4 linked regions of the Homo sapiens genome follow. The protein of the gene in region 1 purifies or fractionates together with the protein of each later gene. This does not show direct contact. Each region holds a gene or a part of one and is shown on either strand. Other genes may lie near its edges.

What was found.
Region 2: the proteins of DHX8 (region 1) and NUDCD1 purify together in Homo sapiens (affinity purification with mass spectrometry; 5 studies listed by BioGRID and IntAct, with this or other methods). This does not show direct contact.
Region 3: the proteins of DHX8 (region 1) and XAB2 purify together in Homo sapiens (affinity purification with mass spectrometry; 4 studies listed by BioGRID and IntAct, with this or other methods). This does not show direct contact.
Region 4: the proteins of DHX8 (region 1) and AQR purify together in Homo sapiens (affinity purification with mass spectrometry; 4 studies listed by BioGRID and IntAct, with this or other methods). This does not show direct contact.

The regions. Positions count from the first base shown.
Region 1 is NC_000017.11:43,521,950-43,526,202, forward strand, and holds the end of DHX8 (ATP-dependent RNA helicase DHX8), read left to right. Parts: intron 1-97; coding exon 98-277; intron 278-1,678; coding exon 1,679-1,898; 3' UTR 1,899-3,721; downstream 3,722-4,253.
Region 2 is NC_000008.11:109,331,088-109,338,710, forward strand, and holds the start of NUDCD1 (nudC domain-containing protein 1), read right to left. Parts: upstream 3,001-7,623; 5' UTR 2,924-3,000; coding exon 2,806-2,923; intron 1-2,805. Other genes in the region: transcription and mRNA export factor ENY2, read left to right, coding at 3,382-3,387, 5,041-5,117.
Region 3 is NC_000019.10:7,619,515-7,626,571, forward strand, and holds the end of XAB2 (pre-mRNA-splicing factor SYF1), read right to left. Parts: intron 6,757-7,057; coding exon 6,622-6,756; intron 6,531-6,621; coding exon 6,366-6,530; intron 4,932-6,365; coding exon 4,787-4,931; intron 4,369-4,786; coding exon 4,217-4,368; intron 3,776-4,216; coding exon 3,656-3,775; intron 3,380-3,655; coding exon 3,248-3,379; intron 3,148-3,247; coding exon 3,016-3,147; intron 2,931-3,015; coding exon 2,817-2,930; intron 1,784-2,816; coding exon 1,621-1,783; intron 1,523-1,620; coding exon 1,332-1,522; intron 1,156-1,331; coding exon 1,033-1,155; intron 933-1,032; coding exon 761-932; intron 562-760; coding exon 432-561; intron 343-431; coding exon 233-342; intron 134-232; coding exon 72-133; 3' UTR 11-71; downstream 1-10. UniProt on the Homo sapiens protein: Involved in pre-mRNA splicing as component of the spliceosome. Involved in transcription-coupled repair (TCR), transcription and pre-mRNA splicing.
Region 4 is NC_000015.10:34,851,232-34,854,749, forward strand, and holds the end of AQR (RNA helicase aquarius), read right to left. Parts: 3' UTR 551-3,518; downstream 1-550.

The sequences.
Region 1 (4,253 bases):
CTCTGGGCACCCCAAGATGGATGTGTTGGGCACTGTCATTGTGAAAATAGACCTGTGAAAGCTGAGTGGGCTCATATCTTTTGTCCTATCTTGATAGACACAAGCTGGATGTTGTTTCCTGTGGCAAGTCCACAGTCCGAGTGCAGAAGGCCATCTGCAGTGGGTTCTTCCGTAATGCTGCCAAGAAAGACCCGCAGGAGGGTTACCGGACACTGATCGACCAGCAGGTGGTCTATATCCATCCTTCCAGTGCCCTCTTCAACAGACAGCCAGAATGGTAGGTGGACATGTCCCAGGGTCTAGGGGCTTTTCTGGGCAGAGAAAAACCTGTAAATTTCCTGGTATTTTGTGATTGTGTCTTCACTACTCCCAGTATGTCCTAGTATAACACTGCTTGCCTTTCTAGAGCAGCAGAAACCTGAATTAGGCACAATGTATCAAACCCTATGAGAGAATTAAAATCATAGGGGTGAGACCTAGTTGAAAAAAAAAATTGTGGTTTAAAAAACTACGTAGTGGCCAGGCACAGTGGCTCATGCCTGTAATCCCAGCACTTTGGGAGGCTGAGGTGGGCAGATCAGCCGAGGTCGGGAGTTCAAGACCAGCCTGACCAACATGGAGAAACCCTGTCTCTACTAAAAATACAAAATTAGCCAGGTATGGTGGCGCATGCCTGTAATCCCAGCTACTTGGGAGGCTGAGACAGGACAATCGCTTGAACCCAGGAGGTGGAGGTTGCAGTGAGCCGAAATCACCCATTGCACTCCAGCCTGGGCAACAAGAGCGAAACTCCATCTCAAAAAAAAAAAAAAAAAAAAACCAACTACCTAGGGGCTAGGCATGGTGGCTCACGTCTGTAATCCCAGCACTTTGGGAGGCCGAGGCAGGTGGATCACCAGAGGTCAGGAATTCCAGGCCAACCTGACCAACATAGTGAAACCATGTCTCTACTAAAAATACAAAGTTAGCCAGGCGTGGTGGCAGGCACCTGTAATCCCAGCTACTTGGGAGGCTGAGACATGAGAATAGCTTGAACCCGGGAGGCAGAGGTTGCAGTGAGCTGAGATTGTGCCATTGTACTCCAGCCTGGGAGACAGAGTGAGACTCCGTCCCAAAAAAAAAAAAAAAAAGAAAGAAAAAAACAACTACCTAGTGATGTAGTTTAAAAAAAAAAACTTGTTTTAAAGTAGCATTTTTAAAAAATTGGACTCTATCTAGAACCCTAATATAAAACTGATTTAAAACCACCATGTTATCACAGTAGAAGGGTTAGAAATGTGGCTCCTTGCATGTTTGGCCTTCTCCATCCCTTGTGGCAGTGTGAGGCCCCTCTTCAGAGCCCTAGAATTCTGTGGAAACATTCTAATAAACATCCTCACATTTTATAGAGCAAGAAACAGATTAGAGAAGGGATGTGATTGGCTCCATGTCACTTAACTAGTTAGAGCCAGAGCCAGGACTAGAATACATTCTCCTGAGACCTTTCTTGTGGTTAGAGGTGTGCGGGTGCTTCAGTATTGGGGTGTGGCTGTCATAAACAGACTGCAGTCTTATAGGTGTCAGGCAGGAGAGGTAATAGTATAAAATGTAAGCTCAGCTGAGGCCTACTAGGGACCAGGTTGACTGTAGAGTGGGGCCTATATCCAGAGGCTTGAGTACTATCTCTGTCCCCCCTCAGGGTGGTGTACCATGAGCTGGTGCTCACCACCAAGGAATACATGCGTGAAGTTACCACCATCGACCCTCGGTGGCTTGTGGAGTTTGCCCCAGCCTTCTTCAAGGTCTCAGACCCAACTAAGCTAAGCAAACAGAAGAAGCAACAGCGTCTTGAACCCTTGTACAACCGCTATGAGGAACCCAATGCCTGGAGAATATCTCGAGCTTTCCGACGGCGCTGAAAGGCAAGATTGTTCCTTTGCCTCTCCAGCAGCAGTAGCCAGGGCTTGGACTTATCGATGACAGGCTGGTCCTGAGGATACAGCTGTCCCGTGACTGACTGTCTTAACTGAGCATTTTCTCAACTCGACTCTCATTTCTTCCCTGCTGGTAAAATAGAAACAGGGATTTAAACCTGGCTTTGGCAAGAGCCTGCAGCCTCCATCACCCCAAGTCCTTGGGCCCAGTTGGGAGCTCATATCTAACACAGAGACACATTGCATCAACTTCAAGAAAGGGACAATTTGTGCAGCTCCAGGATGGGAAGGTGGAGTGGGTGAGCATCTTGTGCAGGGACATGGTGAGTGCCCTGATGCCCCAGCTAGCAGGAGCTACTGTGCTCATCTAAAGTGTTTGCCCCACTTCCCACCCCGTCTCCAGCCCCTGTACTTTGGCTTGACCTCGTGGAAATATTTATTTTCTTAAGGAAACAAAAATGGTTTTCTGTGACTGTTTTCTTTTAGCCGAAAGGTTAGGATATTGGCCTGGGCTCAGGGTGAGGGAGATTTAGTATCTGTGCTCTGGCACACATGATGAGAATCCCCTGAATCCCCTGAAACCAGAACGCAGGGCCTCTTTGCGCTCGGAAACGACGTACAACCCAGACTTCCAGCCTTGTCTTTCAGCATCAGCACTAGCCGGGCCGTGCTGGGGGATCACCCGATGATCAACCATGTCCTCTCCACAGAGCACTTCAGTCTGGAGGCCTGAGTGGCTACAGATGGCACATATTAAATACAGAAGGTTTCCCCTTGCTCCCTCCACCTCCCACATTCGCAATGTGCAGCATGTCCCATTTCCTTTTGAAACATACTAAGTAACAACACAGCTTTTATTTTATTTTGTTTTTATTTTTTTCCCCTGAGGTCCTGGATGGACTTTAACAAAGGGATTTTATGGTCAAAACCTCCCTTTCCCCACTCCAAACAGAAAACAAACATAACACCTCTCCTCTCAGCTGGTTTGTGCTGCCAGTATCTGTGCTGCAGGGCTTGTTCTTAGTGGTTTTTTCCTAGCACTTGCTTGGAGAATAGCCACCTCCTTGTGCCCTCCTCACAGCTCCTGAGGAGGGTTTTTTTTTTTTCTTCCCATAGAGATGGGTTCCCACTGTGCTGCCCAGGCTGCTCTCCAATCCCTGGCGTCAAGCAATCCTCCTGCCTCTGCCTCCCAAAGCGCTGGGATTACAGTTGAGAGCCACTGTCCTCTGCACTGAGGAGGCTCCTTACCTGGCGGAACATCAGGCAGGTCTTGCCAGGCCAGGTTTCGGAACTTACGGAAAGCTGGTCTGGATGTAGTGCTTGTAGAGAAGCTTCTGAGAGATTGGGCACATCCTGTTACGTTGCTGCTTCTCCTGTCCTTATGTTATTAGTAAGTTCTGAAGTGATGTAAATGCTAGAACTACTGTAGAACTGTATGCCAGACACTAAGAGAGACTATGTAACATTCCAGGATATAAAGGAATGTATGTTGTCACTGGGCAGCAAACCACACCCTAAAGACAATTCAGAAAGAGTCCGAGGGAGAGGAATATAGGCCAGGCAATCTGCTGGCTGCAGATCCCTGCCCCTTCATTAAGCTGAGTGCCTCCTGATTCTGTCTGAGTATTCGCCTTTGTAAGCCCAGGCCAGTAATCAAGGGGCAGGGCATTGTTGTGTGTTAACCTTGAAGGCCTTCTGGGGAGAGACAGTACAGGGACCTCAAATGAAACCAAAGGGGAAACGGGGACTGGGCACCCACCTCCCCAATCTCGTTTTGTTTTTGTTTTTGTTAAGACAGGATCTTGCCATCTTGCCTAGGCTGGCATCAAACTCCTGAGCTCAAGTGATCTTCCTGCCTCAGCCTCCTGAGTAGCTGGGACTACAGGTGCATGCCACCACACCTGGCTCCCAGTCCTAATTCCAGCCTAAATTTTCCCCATTCAGAAACACTCCTGGATATAGTGGCCCAGCCTGTCCTGACTGAGTGCCCAGCACTGACAATGTTGACACCTGGGGAGGGAGGGTTGGGTTTCAAGCTGAGGTTGAAAAGGGATGTTGAATGGGCTAAGGATAAGAGACAGCAGGGTTCGTTATCTTTTCTGGCTCAGGTGGAGGAAAAAGAAGGATCCCCATTCTGTGGGTGTTCCTTGACCATCTCTCTACGCTAGAGCTGAGGTCACTTCTCTGCTATGACAACATAGCTGGGTTCTGACCTTTTGACCATCAGGAAAGCAATGTCAGCAGCTGAGCTGAGCCTGCTCTGAGGGAGAAGGGGGGGGTCCTGTCCAGATGCAGAAGGGGAGCTTGCCTGCTGCTCTCACACAATGGAGCCCTTGTTTC
Region 2 (7,623 bases), on another chromosome or scaffold:
ATCCCAGCACTTTGGGAGGCCGAGGCAGGTGGATCGCGAGGTCAGGAGTTCAAGACCAGCTTGGCCAAGATAGTAAAACTCCGTCTCTAATACAAAAATTAGCTGGGCTTGGTGGCGGGCACTTGTAATCCCAGCTACTCCAGAGGCTGGGGCAGAGAACTGCTTGAACCCGGGAGGCGGAAGTTGCAGTGAGCTGAGATCGCGCCACTGCACTCCAGCCTCAACGACAGAGACTCCGTCTCAAAAAACAAAACAAAAACAAAAAGAAACAAACAAAAATTAGCTGGGCATGGTGGCGGGCGCCTGTAATCCCAACTACTCGGGAGGCTGAGGCAGGAGAATCGCCTGAACCCGGAAGGCAGAGGTTGCAATGAGACGAGATCACACTACTACAGTCCAGCCTCCGCAATAGAGCAAGACTCAGACTCAAAAAAAAAAAAAAAAAAAAAAATCTTCAAATGGCACCTGATATCCTGCAGCTGTACATCCCAAACACAGAATCTAAGATTAACGCTGATGAAATGAGTACGGAACAAGGACAACTTTGTGAATTTTTTCTAAAGTTAAAGTATTCAATGGATTGTTTATTGTGAGATTTTGCTTCCTGCTTTTTTGGTGTTAAAATATCCTTTTGTTTATGAAAAGATAGATGAGTAAATGATAGTTTTTAAGAAACATCTCCACCTAGTAAACAGAAAAGTTGGCAGAACTACAGCAGCTGAGTTTTATTTTATATTGTAATGGCTCAATACAAAAATGTCAGGGAAACACTGAATGACCGGAAATCCAAGAAATCCAAAAGGCAAACAAGGCCCTCACTGATTTATTTCCTCTCACTTTCCCAGACGTTTTGCTCCAGCAATATAAGAGTGCAAGGATGTCCAGCATACAACCTACTAATTATTTCCCTTTCCTCATGCTTTCCCATGAATGGAATGACCTCAACAATTTCTTCTCTTCTTCATATACTCATTTTATTGAATACATCCTATGTGCCAAGCACTAGATATAGGGTAGTGAACAAAAGAAAAACATCACTGTTTTCAAGGAACTCATAGTCTAGTGGAGGAAACAGACAACAAATCAAGATAGAATTTAAAAGGCCGATAAGTACGTCTTATGGAGAATGCAATGACGAAGCCCAAAAGTGAAGGCAGGAAGGCTAGTCAGGAGGCTACTAGAGTTCAGGTAAGAGATAACTCTGATTTGGATTAGGGTGGAGGCCTAGAGATATCAAAATGTGGAGCTGACCGGACTTGCTACCAAGCAGACAGTGGCTAAAAGAAATAAACCCCAAATGACTCTGGCACAAGTGTCTCTTGGTACCAACCTGGGCTAGTCTAGTCGGCTAAAGGATAAGAGACCACACGGAGAAAAGTCAAGAGGAGACCATGTGAAAGAATCTTAAACAAGCTTATAGTCTGAGACCCTACCCCCACCCTCCAAACATATGAGGAAGTCCAGCCAAATGAGCAGAGCTTCCCAGCAGATCCATTACTGAACAAGGATGCATCAATGAGCCCAACTAGGACTAGAAGAACCACTCAGCTGACCCGTAGACTTGTGAGCAATAATAACTGCTTCTTGTTTTGAGACACTGAATTTTGGCTTCACTTTCTAATGCACTAACTAAACATGGTGATACCATCTACTGACATGGGGTGACTGGAAGAAACACGGTGGCAAAGAGGAAAAGGAAAAAAATAAAAAGAAAAATCAAGCTTATCCTCTCTCATCCTAGTCAACTCTTAACCTACCCTTCAAAGCTCAACTTAGATATTAACTCCTCCAAGACGCCTTCCCAGATCCCCAGACTAGTTTAGGAAAGATATTCAAGTACTACCATTGTATTTTGTACATATCCCTATCACTGCCTTCCCATATTGTTTTACAATTATCTGTTTACAATTTTCTTCCTAACTAGCTAATAGTCCTCTTTTGTTACGGAAGGTGTCTTGTTCATTTTGATATTATCAGGACGTAACACAAAACAGGTACTCGGTAAATATTTCTGAATTTAATAAATCAATTAGCATAAACTTATTTTATACTTTAATGTCTGTTATTATAATTAACTGTAGATCACTATTTCTCAAAGTGTGATCTCTGAAAACATGCATCAGAATCAGCAGGGGTGTGAATTTTAAAATGCAGATCTCTGGGCTCTATCATAACGAAAATGCCGTTAAGTTGTAAAAACAAGAGTAAGGATATTCTACCAGCTACAGATAAAGCAAGGAGTAGCAGTGTGGGAGTAAATCCACTTTTCCTCACTATCTTCTAGAGATGTTCTCTACCAGAGTTCTTAATGTGCCAGGAACTGAGTAATTAAAAATGCTATGACTGGAATGTAGTTTCTCTTCTAAGAAACGGCTCTCGGTCAGAGGAAACAGGAACTGGGGGTCCTCCAAGGAGGTGTGGTTTCTCAACGCACACGTTCACAAGCGATGCTCCAGGAGGAAGGAATGTTCTCAGCGTCCCCCGAAACAGAAGCCAGGCTGTGGACACACAGCAGCCAGAGCCCCAGGCACTACCCGCACGCCAGCCCTCAGACCTCAGACCTCAGAGGCTGGGCTGCTGACGGAGGGGGCCCAGGGTCCCGTTACCGAAGAGCGCGCGAAGGCGGCTCCCACCGGGTTCTGGGATGGGCATCATTCCCCAGAAGCAGCGGCCTCCGTGAGTCCACGCAAGCCGCCACGGTGGCTTCGCTTGCCAGTCAGAAAGAAAGAAATTGCGGGAAGGGTCAGGCCGGAGGCAGCCGAAAGGGGAAAGGAACGGAGTACGAAGGGCGCCGCCGCTTCCCACCTGCGTCAAGCTCCAGCTGGTAACAAGGCAGCGGCTCAAGAGAGAGCTTGTAACCCTCGAAGCGGGGATCCAACAGAGGTCTCTTCACCCGTAGGGAGCAATTAGCCGCCACCTCCATCGCTTTCCAGGGCCGCAGCGTGAGAATTAATAAAGCCCTTGTTGAAAGGTCCGCGCTTCACGCCTCGCACAGAGACTGGGAAGCGGCGTGGTTCCCATCCCAGAAAACACTGCGGTGCGAACTGCCTTCTGGGAAATGTAGTGTCCGTGAAAAAGTTGAGACTGTTGCATGCTGGGCTATGTAGTTCTCCTGGTACTTAACGCGCGCGCGACGGCAAGGTCTGAACTCTGTTACCCAGAGGCCCTAGCAACCAGGAGGCGGCCCGCGCTGGTTAAATTCTCACATTATAGGCAGGGTGGCGAGACCCCGCCCCGGAAATGCGTGTTCTAGCTTTCTGTGTGCTTAGGTGCCCGAGCTACTGAGGGTCTAAGTCCGGGCAGCCGAAGAGTGTGGTAGGTAACGGTCCTCAGCGCAAGGGTCATTTCGTCGCTGGGAAGGGACGGCCCTCGCCCGCGGTGATGGTGGTGAGCTATGCCCGTGGTCCTCAGGGCCGGGACCCGGGCCCAGCCCAGGCTCCTTTCGATGTACTGTCTTTCGTTAGCGTCCCCGACCCGCGCTCGCGGGCCTGTAGGGCTCTCCGACAGGGCGTGCTACCGGAGTTGGCCTGAAACCAGTCCTCGCTTTGTTTTCTGGCTCCTCCTCTCCCGCCTCTCCCGCTGTCTCCGCCCTGTTCTATTTTCCCTAAGAATGTCTGAACTGGGAGGGATACCCTAGCGCCCTTGTTTTACCAGTGAGAAAACTGAGGCCTTTAAGAATTAAGTGACTTGTCCAAGGTCACTATCCGTATTTTAGGAGCCAAGACGAGATCAAGTTCAATATTCCAGGAGTGGTACTGACTAGACCTTGTAGTTATTTTGAAAATGTTAGCCTCCAATTACAAAAGCAAGCATTTCCTAGTTCTCACTCAACTTCTCCTTTTCCCTGTTCCTCTCAAAAAAGAAAAAAAAAATCAACTCTGGTAACTCATTGCCAGTCTGAATTTTCAATAGGCCAGATGGAAGACAACAAAAGTAATCTCAAGTTAGTGACAGATTAGGTGGGAAAACGTTAGTTTACGCCAAGTTTTATTTAATTTAAACTTTTAAGTGGCTTTAACGCTTTCAAAACCTAACTTTCCTCTTCTTTCAACATCATTTTGGTTTGGGTTGTCTGTTTTTACTGACAATTGAGGACTTTGTAAGTTAGGAATTAGTTTGAGATTTGTTTTCTTCTTATCCCACCAGCAGTGTGTGTGTAAACACACACATCCACACACTTAGGTTTAGCAGTTGTAATTGTGGGTTCATCCTAGTGAAGAGTAAAGCAAAACACTTAGAGCCTTATCTAGTAATTTTATTTTTTTTGATTAATTAATTTTTTTTTTTTTTTTTGAGACAGAGTCTTGCCCTGTCACCCAGGCTGGAGTGCAGCAGCGCAATGTCGGCTCACTGCAACCTCTGTCTCCTGGGTTCAAGCGATTCTCCTGCCTCAGCCTCCTGAGTAGCTGGGATTACAGACACCTGCCACCAAGCCCAGCTTATTTTTCTATTTTTAGTAGAGACGGGGTTTCACCATCTTGGTCAGGCTGGTCTTGAACTCCTGACCTCGTGATCCACCTGCCTGGGCCTCCCAAAGTGCTGGGATTACAGGTGTGACCCACTGTGCCCGGCCTGGTAATTTTATTTTTTTACTAATAGTATTTAATCTTTTTTTGATGTTTAGTATGTATGACTTCTCCCAATTTTTGGATGCAGTCTCTGCAGAAGTGATCGGCAGTTATGTTCAGTTTTGGAGCTCCTAGGGTCAAAGTACTTGAGTTCAAATTTTGCCTTTCCACTTTCTATCTCTGTGCCTCAGTTTCCTCATCAGTAAAATACAGATTATTTTATTAATATAAATATGTAACAATACGTTCTGGGAATTAAATGTGATGTTTAAAAAAAAGCAAACCCACACTGCATTAGCCCAGTGCCAAGCACATAAGTGTTTAATAAAGAGTAATGATATTATTAACACACTTGAAATGTATCACCCCTTCAGTTAATAGAATGGTAAACATGTTAGGATGCCTGCCTAGAGGATTTAGCAGAAAATGCTTTGTAAATGTTCTATATCTGAAAGTACATGTTGATGTCCAGGTTAGCAAGATGAACAAAGATGCGCAGATGAGAGCAGCGATTAACCAAAAGTTGATAGAAACTGGAGAAAGAGAACGGTAAGTAATAGATTGTGTTAATAAATTACATTTCACCGCCTTTAATAGTTAGCTTGTAAGAATCTAAACAAGAAATGAAACATGTCACTGGAAAGAATTACAATTGAGATTATAAAAGTTTCTATTCCGAACATCTGGAAAAAATAATTTAGGTTTGTTAAGTATTGCAGGACTTGGAGGGAAGTGGTGATGTAGAAAGATGAGCAAGATATGGCTCTTAAAGAGTAATTTGATGGAGAAGAAAAAGTACATACCTGAATTACAACTGGAGACATAATGTTACCTGGGTTTTAACAGGGAGACAATGTTGTGGAACCAGCTTCATTTACCAAGCTCTCAACCTTGGAGCAGCAAGTGCTGTTTCCACTCTCTAAAACATTCTTCCTTCTCTTCCTTTTTAGCTAATTCTAGCTCAACTATCAGGTCTAATTTATATATTGTCTCTTCAAGGAATGTTTTTAAGTCCCAAATACCTTGTTCCATCATAGCATTTAATCAACATTGTGTTCTAACAATCTACTTGGCTAGTTTGTATCCTCCAGTATAATCTAAGTTCTTTAACACCAAAAACAACATTGTATACCCAGCATCTAATGCTTTGTTTGGTTCATAATTGGCCACGTAAATATTTGCAGAATCAACAGGTTTAGAAGTACAAAGAAGGGGCTGAGGAATCAAGAAAGGCTCCCAGAGGCAGGGTTATAAAGTGAGTAAGACAAATATGTATAAGGAAGAGGCAAATATGTATAAGGAAGAGGGGGAATCTTTCAACTCAACCCGGGCATTCAGGTGATCATGTAAGATCTCACACAATAAGAAAAAGAGGTGCATCTGTTGCTGACTTTATTTTTGGATGATGGGAGTCATTTAAAGTTTTAAGAAAGGAAATGACTAGATCACATTTACACTTTAGGAATCTTACTCTGTTGGTGTGGAGCTTGGACTTGAAGGGGACAAGATAGATGGCAGAAAAATGAGGTAGAAGATTATATAGGGTTGAAAATGGAAAACTCCAAAAATTGGAAGGAGACCTTAGAATTTTAATAAAATGTAGAAACAGCAACCCTCAAAATGAGGAAGGAGGCATCGATAACTGCCTTGGGTAGCTTTAGAGGATAGTACTGCTGGTAAGGAGTACGGATTGTATGTTGTTTTTTTTTTTTGTTGTTTGTTTTTGATTCATGCAGCTTCAAGTTACTGAGTTTCTATCATATGCCATGCCCTGTTAAGGTGTTGGAGGTAACAGTAGTAGACAAAAATGGAGACTTTGTTTTCACAGAGCTTGCATTCTAATGGGAGGAGACAGATAAAACTGTGTAATAATGTCAGATGGTGATGAGCACTAGAGGAACAATAAAGCAGAAAATAAAGAGGTGTAATATTTTAGATAGAAAAAACAAAGAAGAAATCAGAAGGAGGCCGTGCATAGTGGCTCACGCCTGTAATCCCAGCACTTTGGGAGGCTGAGGCTGGCAGATCACAAGGTCAGGAGATTGAGACTATCCTGGCTAACATGGTGAAACCCCATCTCTACTGAAAATACAAAAATTAGCCATGCATGGTGATGGGCTGTAGTCCCAGCTACTCAGGAGGCTGAGGCAGGTGAATCGCTTGAACTCGGGAGGCGGAGGTTGCGGTGAGCTGAGATCGCGCCACTTCACTCCAGCCTGGGTGATAAGAGTGAAACTCCGTCTCAAAAAAAAAAAAATCAGAAGGATATGAGGGTGAGCAGGGACTCTTTAAGTTCCTGAGATAGGAGCTTGCCTTTCATTTTTGAGGAGCACAGGGATGCTAGGGAGACTGAGTAAATTGGGTGAGGGAGAGTGGAGATTAAGTCAGTGGCATAGCTGGGGAGAAGGCAGATCATGAAGGATCATGTAGGCTGTAATAAAGTCTTGGAGTTTTATTCTGAGTAAATTGGGAAGGCACTGGAGGTTTTTGAGCAGCAGGAGAAGAACTAAGTGTACAAGGGAAGAAGCAGGGAGACAACCTAGAATGCTATGGTAATATTCTAGAGAAGAGATGATGGCTTGAACTAGAGTAGTAATGGCGGAGATAGTGAGAAAGGTGAATTCTAGGTATATGTTTTAAATTGAACCCAATAGGATTTGCTCATAAATTGGATGTGTAGTGTTAACAAGGCAGCTGAGTGGAAGGATACTACAGAGATTCCTAGTCTGAGGAACCAGAAGAATGGAATTGCCATTCTCAGAAGAAGAACAAACAGGATGAATTGGTAGAAAATCAAAAGTTGGATTTTGGCCCTATTAAGATTGAAAGACCTAATTAAATATTAAGATGAGAATGTCACATAGTGGATGTCTAGGGATAGTGAAAGTGGTTTGCAGGGAAAGAGAATTTGTTTGGGATGTGACATTTTTAACCTGAGAAGTTAAATGATTTAGGTTGAGGATTGAAGATTTGTAAAAGTGGATATGGCAAAAGGATAAGAAAATATTTTATTGCACCTGTGATGCCATTAGTTGCATATACACTGCCACTTTTT
Region 3 (7,057 bases), on another chromosome or scaffold:
GCTCAGACCATGATGTACAAACGTAGCTGTATTGGGGAGGGGGTGGGGAGGGGGGATGGGGGAGGGACGGGTCAGTCTTCCTTCAGGCTCCCAAACACTGCGGCTGGCACGCTCTGCTGCTCCAGCCGAACCTCTGTGGGGAAGGCGGGAGCCAGTCACCCTCCTGGCGTTGGCCTGTCCCCCGAGGCCCACCCTGGTAATGCCACCGTCCCCGCCCCAGCCGGGCCCTCACCGTTGGGCTCCAGGTCCATCTCGTCCTCGTCCTCGTCCTCGCCCAGCTGGATCTCCTCGGGGTTGACCTGCTGTGCCAGCTCTGCCAGCTCCTCCCGGGAGGCGTCACTCCTAGGGACGGGCCATGCTGCCTCAGTTCCCCACCCCGGGCCCCCTTGGGACCTGTCCCAGTCCTGTCCCGTCCAAGGATCCGCCCTCACCTCACGAACAGGATCTTGCTCTGGGCGCGCAAGGGCTGGTCACGCTCCGCCTCAGCCGCCAGCTGCTCTGCCCGCTGTTCCAGCAGCTTCATGTCGTCCATGCCACTCTGCCCAGGGGCCAGGTCAGACACTAGGGGGTGGGAGCAGGGGGTCAGCGCCACGGGGGCCCCTCCCACACATCGGACGTTGCACTATCCCAGTCCCCCAGGTGATGGCCCAGCCCTCAAGGAGATTGCCATCAGGATCCGAGGCTCCCAGACCCGGAAAGCCCAGGTCAGGCCGGGCTGAGATGCCCTGGATCAGGAACTCAGCCAGCTGGGACGGCTCACCGGTGCCCGTGGCACTGCCCGAGACCTTGAGCATCTGCGAGGCCATGAAGTTGACCTGCGTGTTGTACGTGGCCTGCACGCTGCGCCGGATACGCAGCATTTCCTTGATGGTGTCCTCATTGCCATGCCGGACCTCAAAGTCCTTCCACGTCTGCCAGAACGCGCCGGTCGTCTGCGTGGGGGGCAGGGCAGGGGTGGGTGTGTGTGCCCGTGAGCTGGCTGACTCCGCCGCAGCCCCCAACCCTGATACCCGTCCCTCCCCACAGCCCTACCCGGGGGTCACAGATCTGGGAGCAGAAGCTGTAGATGGCCCGGGCGCGGTCAATCTCCCCGAGCTTGCACTCCATGTCTGCAAACCGCAGGCACATCTCACGCGCGTGCTCGTCCGACAGCACCTGGACACCGGGGTTGGGGAGGCCGGGAGTGAGGCCGGGGTAGCTCGGGGGCTCCCAACACACCATGGCCATCCCTGTGCTTCCAGAAGGCTCCTCCTCAGCCCCTCCCACCTGCCTGGACCCCTTCCGTCTGCTCAGGGACCTCTGGCCCCGGCCCAGCCCCCCACGGTGGGTACCTCAATGGCCTTCTGGTAGATGCCGCGGGTGTGGGTGACCCCATAGATCTCGGCCGCCCGCTTGATGTAGATGTTGAACATGTCATACTGCTGGGCGGGCTCCACGGCCCTGGTGGCACGCTCGTACACGGCCATGGCATGCCGGGCCAGGCCCCACTCCTCCTCCAGCTGTGCGTACAGCAGGTACAAGGCTGGGCGGGGTAGGCGGGGAGAGGGGAGCACGGTCAGCCGGGGCCAGTCAGAAACCCAGCCCGCCCGCCACCCCCCCCATGCCCTCTGCCCGCCTCACTCTTGGCATATTTTGGGGGGCAGCCGTCCAGAGCCTGTTCAAACAGGTCCCGTGCCCGCTCCAGCTTGCGGCCCCCATAGCGGGCAATGAATTTGGTCAGGTAGGTGCTCCAGATGTCGGACACGTTGGGCCACTTGAACAGCGAGATGCCGCGCTCGTACGCCTGTTACCAGAGGGAGAGTCACATGTGAGAGTCTGCAGATAGAGACCACCAGGCACCCGGGATGTCCTTGGGTGGCGTCTGTAGGGAGCCTGCCAGGAACTCCCTTGGGGCCCTTCCCTGTCCACGCCTCCCTGTCCCTAATGGCAGTTGTGGGGGTCTGTCCTCTGCACTGTCTCCCTCTGTGAGAACCCCAAGAACAGGGGTGCAATGGGACCTGCTAAGCACAGTCTGGCCCCATAGGAGGTGACATGATGGGTGAAGGTGGGTGGCTCCCCAGCTCCGCTGACGCTGGCTGCCTGTCCCCAGGGAGAAGGCCGCACCCCCTGACAGAGGGGCAGGCAGTAGCACGCGTATGCATGTACGACCTCCCCATTTGTGTATCTGTATAATGCCCACACGATCCATAGAAACACACACTCAAACATGACTGCTCCGGCCGCGGGACATGGCCTTCCCACGGACACGCAACCCACCCCCTGGACCCCACAACCCGTCTCCTGAGCAGCGGGGCAGGGAGAGCCCGCACACACTGGCACCAACACCCTCCCCATGAGTCATGGGTGCACGTGGAAGTAGGATTCTGTGCCTGCTATGGAATGAACTGTGCCCCCCTCAAAACATTCATATGCTCAAATCTTAACCCCCAGTACCTCAGAAAGTAGATTCGTTTGAAGATGAGATCACTAAGTTAAACTGAGGTCGTTAGGGGCCACCTAATCCATTATGACTGATGTCCTTTATAAGAAGAGGAAATTTCAAAAGTGACACACACAAAGAGAAGGCCACACAAAGACATAGGGAGAAGGCGGCTGTCTGTAAGCTAAGGAGAGAGGCCTCAGGAGGAACCAGCCCTGCCCATGCCTCGATCCTGGACTTCCAGCCTCCAGGACGGGGAGAAGCTAAATCTTTGTTGTTTAAGTCACCCAGTCTGTATACTGTGTCACACAAGCCCCAGCAGATTCGTAAGTTGCTGAGGACCCCTGGGGAGGGGACACTGCCATCAGGGGCCTCTGGGTCCACCCTAGCCCCTCACCTTGAAGCTCTCCTCGAAGTACTTGTGCTCCTCCAGGAACATGGCATAGTTGATGACGATCTGGGGTGTTGCGATACGCAGGTCCAGGATGCGGTCGTACACGGCCTTGGTGGACTGCAGGGGTGGGGATGGGAAAGGTTGGAGCTGGTTCTGGAGCTGAGTCCGGGGCCCCGTCCCTCCCCAGCCACAGGCAGCTCACCTGGAAGGTGCCGAGGCTCTCCTCCAGGTCGGCGAGCATGGACCAGACCTTCAGTGACTTGTACACGCGGTTCTGCACGGGCTCTGAACCATCAAAGTACTCGGCCCGGCGGGCAGGCAGCGCCGTGGCCTTCTGCAGGGGCAGACAGTGGCCGGGGAGGCGCTCAGGGGCTGTCCCTGGCCCTTGCCCTACAACCTGCAGCCCCCACCCCACAGCCTGGGCCTGTTCTCACTCGCAGCAGCCGCAAGGCCTCATCGTAGTTCTCGTGTCGGAGCTCCAGCTCTCCGCACTGACACCACACGCTTGCCAGGTCATCCACCTGCTTGAAGTTCACCTTGGTGGCCTTCTCCAGGATGACACGGGCCTGCCGGGGCGGGCAGAGGCGAGGCTGAGACCCTGCCCACCTGGACAGCTCCCACCATCAAGGGTCAGAAAGGTGACCATGCTCACAAACATACAGGCACAAACACACAGGCACACACACAGGCACACACATGCGTGCACATATGCATGCACCCAAATGCACATGCACACACACGTGCACACATCCATGCACAAATATGTACACACACATACATGCACACATATACAAGCACACACACATGCATGAACACACAGGCACACGCAACAGGGTGCTCACATCGTCCAGCTGTCCGTTGTCCTCATAAAACTTGGCAAACGCCACCCACAGAGTGTGGGGCTTGCCTGTGGCCTTGAAGGGGTCCACCGTCTGCACAGCCTCTGTGTAGGTGTTGATGATCTGGGGACAGGAGGGAGGAGGTCATATAGGACTCAGGACCCTGCAGATGACGGTCGGGGCAGAGCTGTGGCTCTGAGGGGTGGGGCCTGGAGGGTGCTGTGGCCCCTGTCGGGAGAGGCCAGAAACGAACTATGGCCCTTGACAATGGTCAGGACCAAGAGAGAGCTGTGGCCCTAAGGGGCGGGGCCAGGAGAGAGCTGTGACCCTCCAAGGGGCGGGGCCACGAGGGAGCTGTGGCCCTCCAAGGGGTGGGGCCAGGAGGGACTGTGGCTCTGAGGGGCGGGGCTCGGGCAGGAGGAGAACCCCAAGAACAGGGGTGGAATTGGACCTACTAAGCAAAGTCAGGCCCCTAGAAGGTGACATTATGGGTGAAGGTGGGTGGCTCCCCAGTTCTGCAGGAAACTGGCCCTCAGGGGTAGGACTGGGGCAGGCTTCATGTACCTCCCGGGGGCGGCCCTGGTGCAGGGCGACACGCTTGTGCCACTCGTGCACGTGGTGTGGGTTTTGGCGCAGCAAGACGCTGTTGAGGAGCAGGGGCCGCCGGCTGATGAGCTGCTCGAAGCGGGCCAGGCGCAGCTCCAGGTCCACATCATCTGGGAGCCGCGAACATGTTTGTCAGGGGCGGAGACCCAGGATGCAGGTCCCCGGATGCCACCGCCTCCACTCCCCACCCTCACTCCGCTCCAGCCCCCAGCCAAGTGCTCTGGGCCCTAGACACTCAGCTCGGGTGTCCACCTGAGCCCCACCCCCAGCCCCAGGTACTGTGGATACCCCCTCCTACCCCCACTGTTCCCCTAGCCCTCCTGCCCTGCCAGGCTCTGGCCCAGGCCTGAGAAGTGTCCCCATTCCTGGCTCCTTCAAGACCCCCACACCCCCTGCATCCACTCAGCCTCCTTCCCTGCTGGCCCCCAGCTGAGCCTCCCAGGGCTGCCTCACCTGAGATGTGTCCCGCCCCTACCGCTAATGTCCACTCAGCTCTCTCCCCACCAGCCGGGGCCCCCAGAGGCTCACCCTCCTCCTCGCGCCCCAGCTCCGAGGCGGTCTCCATCTTTGCAGCGATCATGCTCTCCTCGAACTGGGCGTAGCTGTCAAACACCTGTGTGAAGTCCCGCACGGTCATCACTGTCCGGATGGCCTCCTCGTACACGTCCCGAGCCTGTGGGGACCCAGGGAAGGGGAGGTGAGAGGAAAGTGGCGCAGGGGACAGGCAGCAGCACTCTTAGCACCAGCCTCAATGTGGAACCCCTGGGGGCCTTCTGGGTAGTGACGCATCCAGCACCTCTGGGTAGTGACCCCAGGACAGAGCCTCCGTGGAGCCTTCTCACCCCCGCCCTGCCCTGCACTGCCAGGGTGGTCTTGGGAGCTTCAGGACCTCCTCAGTAAACTGGGTGACTGCCCTTTGCACACAGTGACCTCAGGGCTCGACTGAGACACATGTGTGAAGCACTTGGCACCCAATAGGTGGCCAAAAACCCCCCAGCGCCTATGGGTCCACCCTGCAGGGACCCTCGCCTCAGCTCATCCTCCGAGGCCTCAGAATTTGCTCCAAAGCGTCCCTCTCGCTTGCCTGACCCTCTTCCCCAGCCCGCCTGTCCTCCACCTGGCTCGCCCACCCCAGCTCAGGTCCCCTCTCTCTACCCAGCCCTGACGGGTCTTGCCCTGCTGCCTCCGACAGCCTTGGCCTACACGTGCCCCTGGAAGGGGCGCTGCGAAGCGCATACCGCCCACACCCCACTGGCGGCTCCCCCAGCCAGGAGCATGGCCAGCCCGTTTGGCTTTCGAGGCTCCCAACCTATCTTCCCTGGGTTCCTGAGCCTCCCCGCTCTCGGCTCTGGCCCCCTCTGCACCCACCTGCCCCCAGGCCATCCCCTGAGCTTGCCACTCCACTGCCTGCCAAGAGCCACAGTCAGCTAACCCCTGAGGGAGTGGCCCTCACACCACGTACCTCCTCAGTGCTGTGCCTGCGTCACTGAGCTGATTGGTGACAGGCAGTAACTGTCACCCTGATTTTACAAATGAAGACACCCCACCTTAGTGGGGCCAAGGCCGCAGAGCCAGAGGGTGAACCCTGAACGCAAATGTGGCTGACTCCAAGGCTGACGTGCCTGCGGGCAGGAGTGCTCCCCCACCCTCAGCAGGATAGTAATCGTGTGCAGGGATATGCATGTCTGTCAAAAATGGCACTTTTTTTTTTTTTTTTTTTTTTTGAGATGGAGTCTCGCTCTGCCACCCAGGCTGGACTTCCGTGGCGCGATCGCAGCTCACGGCAACCTCCACCTCCCAAGTTCAAGCGATTCTCCTGCCTCAGCCTCCCGAGTAGCTGGGATTACAGGCGCGCACCACCATGTCTGACTAATTTTTGTATTTTTAGTAGTGATGGGGTTTCACCATGTTGGCCAGGCTGGTCTTGAACTGCTGACCTCAAGTGATCCTACCGCCTCGGCCTCCCAAAGTGCTGGGATGACAGGTGTGAGCCACCACACCCAGCCATAAATGGCATGTTTTCTGCCTGTGCATGTGTCAACATGTGTCCCCGAGTGTCGGAGGGAGACCCCGCCCCGAACCCAGAGCCCCGTGTGCCAGCATGCACCTTCTCGAAATGGCCGCTGCGGATGTAGTAGTCGGCGAGAGAACACCAGAGCTTGCCCAGCTGGTCGGTGAAGCGGGTGAGGCCCCCGCGGATGATGGCGTCCACATTGAGGGACTGTACCTTGTCCGGATTCTGGGAGATGAGGTCGCACAGCTCGTGCCACAGCTGCAGGGCATGGGGCAGTGGGGGAGAGTCTCAGGCTCAGTCATGGAGGGGGTGGCCCTCCCACCCAGTTGCCGGCTCCCGGCAGGCCCACCTGGTAGTTGGACTTGCCGGCCTTAGACACGAAACGCTCGTCGTTCACCACGGTGGCCAGGCGCTGGGCGGCCTCATCCAGCCGGTCACTTGACTTGAGGTACTCAATGTACTCCTCTGCACTCTCAGGACTCAGCTGGGGACCGAGCCACCCCTCAGGCAGTCAGTGGGGTGGCAGGGCTACGCCCACCTCCCGATTCAGTGGCTTCGGGGCGTCCCCCCCCACCCATTTATGAGTGTCTTGGGCAAAAGCAAGCCCTGTCAAACCAGCCTCAGCCCCACTGGTCCAGCCCGGTTCCTACTGGTCTAGCCTTGGCCCCACTGGGTTAGGCTCAACCCCCTGTGGGTCCTGCCTTGGCTCCACTGGTCCAGCCTCAGTCCTGACTAGACCAGCTGTGGACTTTTTGGGTTAGCCTTGACCCGCAAGGGCACAGCCT
Region 4 (3,518 bases), on another chromosome or scaffold:
TTAGTTCACTTTGTGGACAACTGAACTAGAAACCAGATGGAAAAAACTAAGCAACCAACCAACCAACCAATCAAAAATGGCCCAAATGAACCAGTGAACTAAAGTAGAAAAGGATCACTTCCCATCCAGAACTGTTTTTCGAAAAATGTCAATAAATTCAGCTCTTAAAAGAGCTTTTTATATTAAACCAGGCATCTTTCAAAGAGAAGCAGCTACCTTTGAGGTTCTTGAACTTAGGTTGCAACACAAAGATAAGTATAATAGAGAGAGTGCACAATGTTAAATCAAAGGTAGAGGGGAAGAGGATTGTGGGGACAGTTATTCTGGAGATCAAGAAAGAATTCAGTATGCTTAATGCAAAGTAACTGCTGGGGTCCTTGTGTGTTAAATATTCTTATGCGAGGAAACTGTCTTCATGTTTTATATTTGCCTTCATTTTCTTTTATTATTTCCAGACCACCTCTATTGGTTATGCTAAGTAATCCTTTTCTCTTTTTGGAGTTTAAACTTTTTAAGGAAACAAAAACTAAAGAACAGAAAGCCAGACACATTGGAAATACAAACTCTTCTTTTACTGCATAAGAAATGAGAAGAAAAACTTAGTGTGAAATTCTGGAGTCTAAAATTAAAATGTAAACAGAGAATGCTCAGTGACCTTTTCTTAGGAGGCTCACATGAAGGAATGTCATGGTACATTGACCAAACTTTTATTCATTTGCATTTTCAGGATGTTGCGATTAATACCACATGACACTCAATAAATTACACTACGACATTTTGTACAAATCACTTCACTTCTGGTTTCCTCTTCGGCTGTTACTTCACCCTCTGGTTACCTGTAGGGAAAAAAAATGTATTTTGGGGCTTTATCTTTAAAGGGCGATTCACAGTTCTAGCCAATGTAAAGATATTGGTTCCCAAGGAAATAGCTACCTAAGTTATGTTTTTTTTTTTTTTTTGAAGGAGTTTTTGCTCGTCGCCCAGGCTGGAGTACAGTGGCGCCATCTCAGCTCACTGCAACCTCCCCATCCCGGGTTCAAGTGATTCTCCTGCCTCAGCCTCCACAGTAGCTAGGACTACAGGTGCCTGCCACCATGGCTGGCTAATTTTTGTCTTTTTAGTAGAGACGGGGTTTCACCATGTTGGGCCGGATGATCTCGATCTCCTGACCTCAGGTGATCCGCCCGCCTGGGCCTCCCAAAGTGCTGGGATTACAGGCGTGAGCCACTGCACCCGGCTCGTGTTCTAAGGAAATAGCTACCTAAGGTATCTTATTAAAACAAATGAACAAAAAGTTTCCCAAACTGTGTTCTAAGGAAATAGCTACCTATCTTATTAAAAAAAAACAAAAACAAAGTTTTATGCTCTAATAAGTTTGGGAAATGCTAGGTTAAACAAAGCTAAACATGATTCTTTCCAGTGGGACATCTGAGAGTCTTTAATTAGCTAACAGTGCATTGTGATTCTGCAAAGGAGGAACAATAATTCACTGTTTCCCAAACTTATCTGACCATAGAACATATTTCTCAGAGTATTTTTCAAGAGTAGTATTTTCTGTAATATATGATGAAAAATAATCGTATCGGCCATCTTTGTACATAAGGTCAAAATGTCAGGCAGCCCTGAAATAAACGCAAGCCAAAAGGTAGAGAGATAAGTGAATAAAGCTGGCACACTGTCAGTCCGGAGTACCATGCTGCATTCTGAGTCAAGCTCCAGGAAACTGAGCTAGGGTTTGTCTCTAAGAAGAAAAACTGGAGCGTCCAAAGCTTCTGGATTCCATTTAATTAAAACCCTTTTAAATTAAATCCTTGTAACTGAAGAGTATCGGTGGATGAAGAAAAAATAGTCTCACATGTCTTCATTTCCATCCTTGGCTCAGTACAGCTCCAGTTCCATTATTCTTAAACATCTATTAACATGATTGCTAAATAATTACACAGGCTAACTGCCAAGCATTTTTCACAGGAAGCAAGGCACTGCTCTTCTGGCTTATGCAAAAGGGTCACTGTTTTTTTTTTTTTTTTAACTTTATCTTGTTTTGATTGAAGAAACATCTCTAAAAATACCATCTGAGTGCAAGATAAAAAGGAAATAGCAATTCAAGGCACAAAGCTAAGCACATGCAACAATATAGATGATTTGGGGGTGGGACAGTACAGAATTCAGAACTGATAGAAGTTATCAGCTCCATATTTCAGAAAGACCTAATGTCTTCCTTCTGCTTATACTGTTCTGACAGAATTTTAATTTTGGCAGAGATCACTCTCGATGTTATGATGTACTGATTCAGAGGTCCCAAATCAGTAACCTGATCCTAGATAGATCCTCAAAGGTCAACTGCCACTAGGTGTCCCCTTCTTGATCATTCTTCATGCTGCCTGGATTGGGGCATGGCTAAGCACTCAAGTCAAAGGATTAGTTGGCAATATCCTACATTGTCAACAAAGCTTTGAAGAAAAACAGAGACAGAAACTGGTATTTACTAAGTACCTAGGTGATAAATTATTTTCATAAACATTACCCTATAAAACAGACAACTCTCCTGTCCCAAATCCAAACAGATCTTTTTCCTTTATTTACAGATAAAGAAAATGGGCTTAGAGAGGTTATAAAATTTGTCTAAGGTCTAACCAAATGCTGATAAGCAAATTAGGTACAACTCTGAGCCAGGTCTCGATGAGTCCAAAGTGTGTTTTATAATATCTTGCTGTCTCTTGATCATTACAAAATTTCATTTGTTTACAGGAGCACAAATGGCCTATTTATGCCTTTTCTCTCAGCATCTAGCAAAACATCTCAACTTTTATTACACCAACTTTGGGAGTCTTGATGATGTTTAAATCTTCTCATTCATTTGCCTAAATCAATAGAGCTATTTATCCTCAACTGTTGGCAATGAACTTTCTTAACTCAGAATTTTGAAAAAAAAAAAAAAAAAAGAAGAAGAAATTCTAAATACTTGAATTGCTTCATTTCATGCTCATTCTTTTGGGCATGGCTCTTTTTGGTTTTCTTTACAAAGAGATTCTAAAATCATGACACATTTAGATATGAAAAATAGGATGGAGAGCAATGGGAACACTAATCTGAAATAGTCACATGGCTAGAGTACCTGTGTCTGTAGTAATCCCAAACTATATAGAAAACTCTTGAATTTATTAAGCAATCCCTCATGTGTGCTTGATTGAAAAAATAAACAAAGCAGTGCCGTAGAACTGTAGACTTGGATTCTACCCCCACTCTTCCATAGTTGCCACCCTGGTTAAGTCTCTCTGATTGTTTCCTCATTATTTAAAATAAGTACAGCTCTTAAATTCCTTCAAAAATTCCCAAGATTCTACAGTCAACTGCCACTCACTTGCCTTTCCAATGAATAAACCGTTTAAAAGAATTCAAATCCCACCACCTTTACCCTTTCTAAATTCTTTTGACAAGGACAAAGGACTTACCCATCCATCTTCCACCTAAATTTGCTTTTTAGTGATAGAAAAACCAAGCAGCAAAGAAAAAAGTAT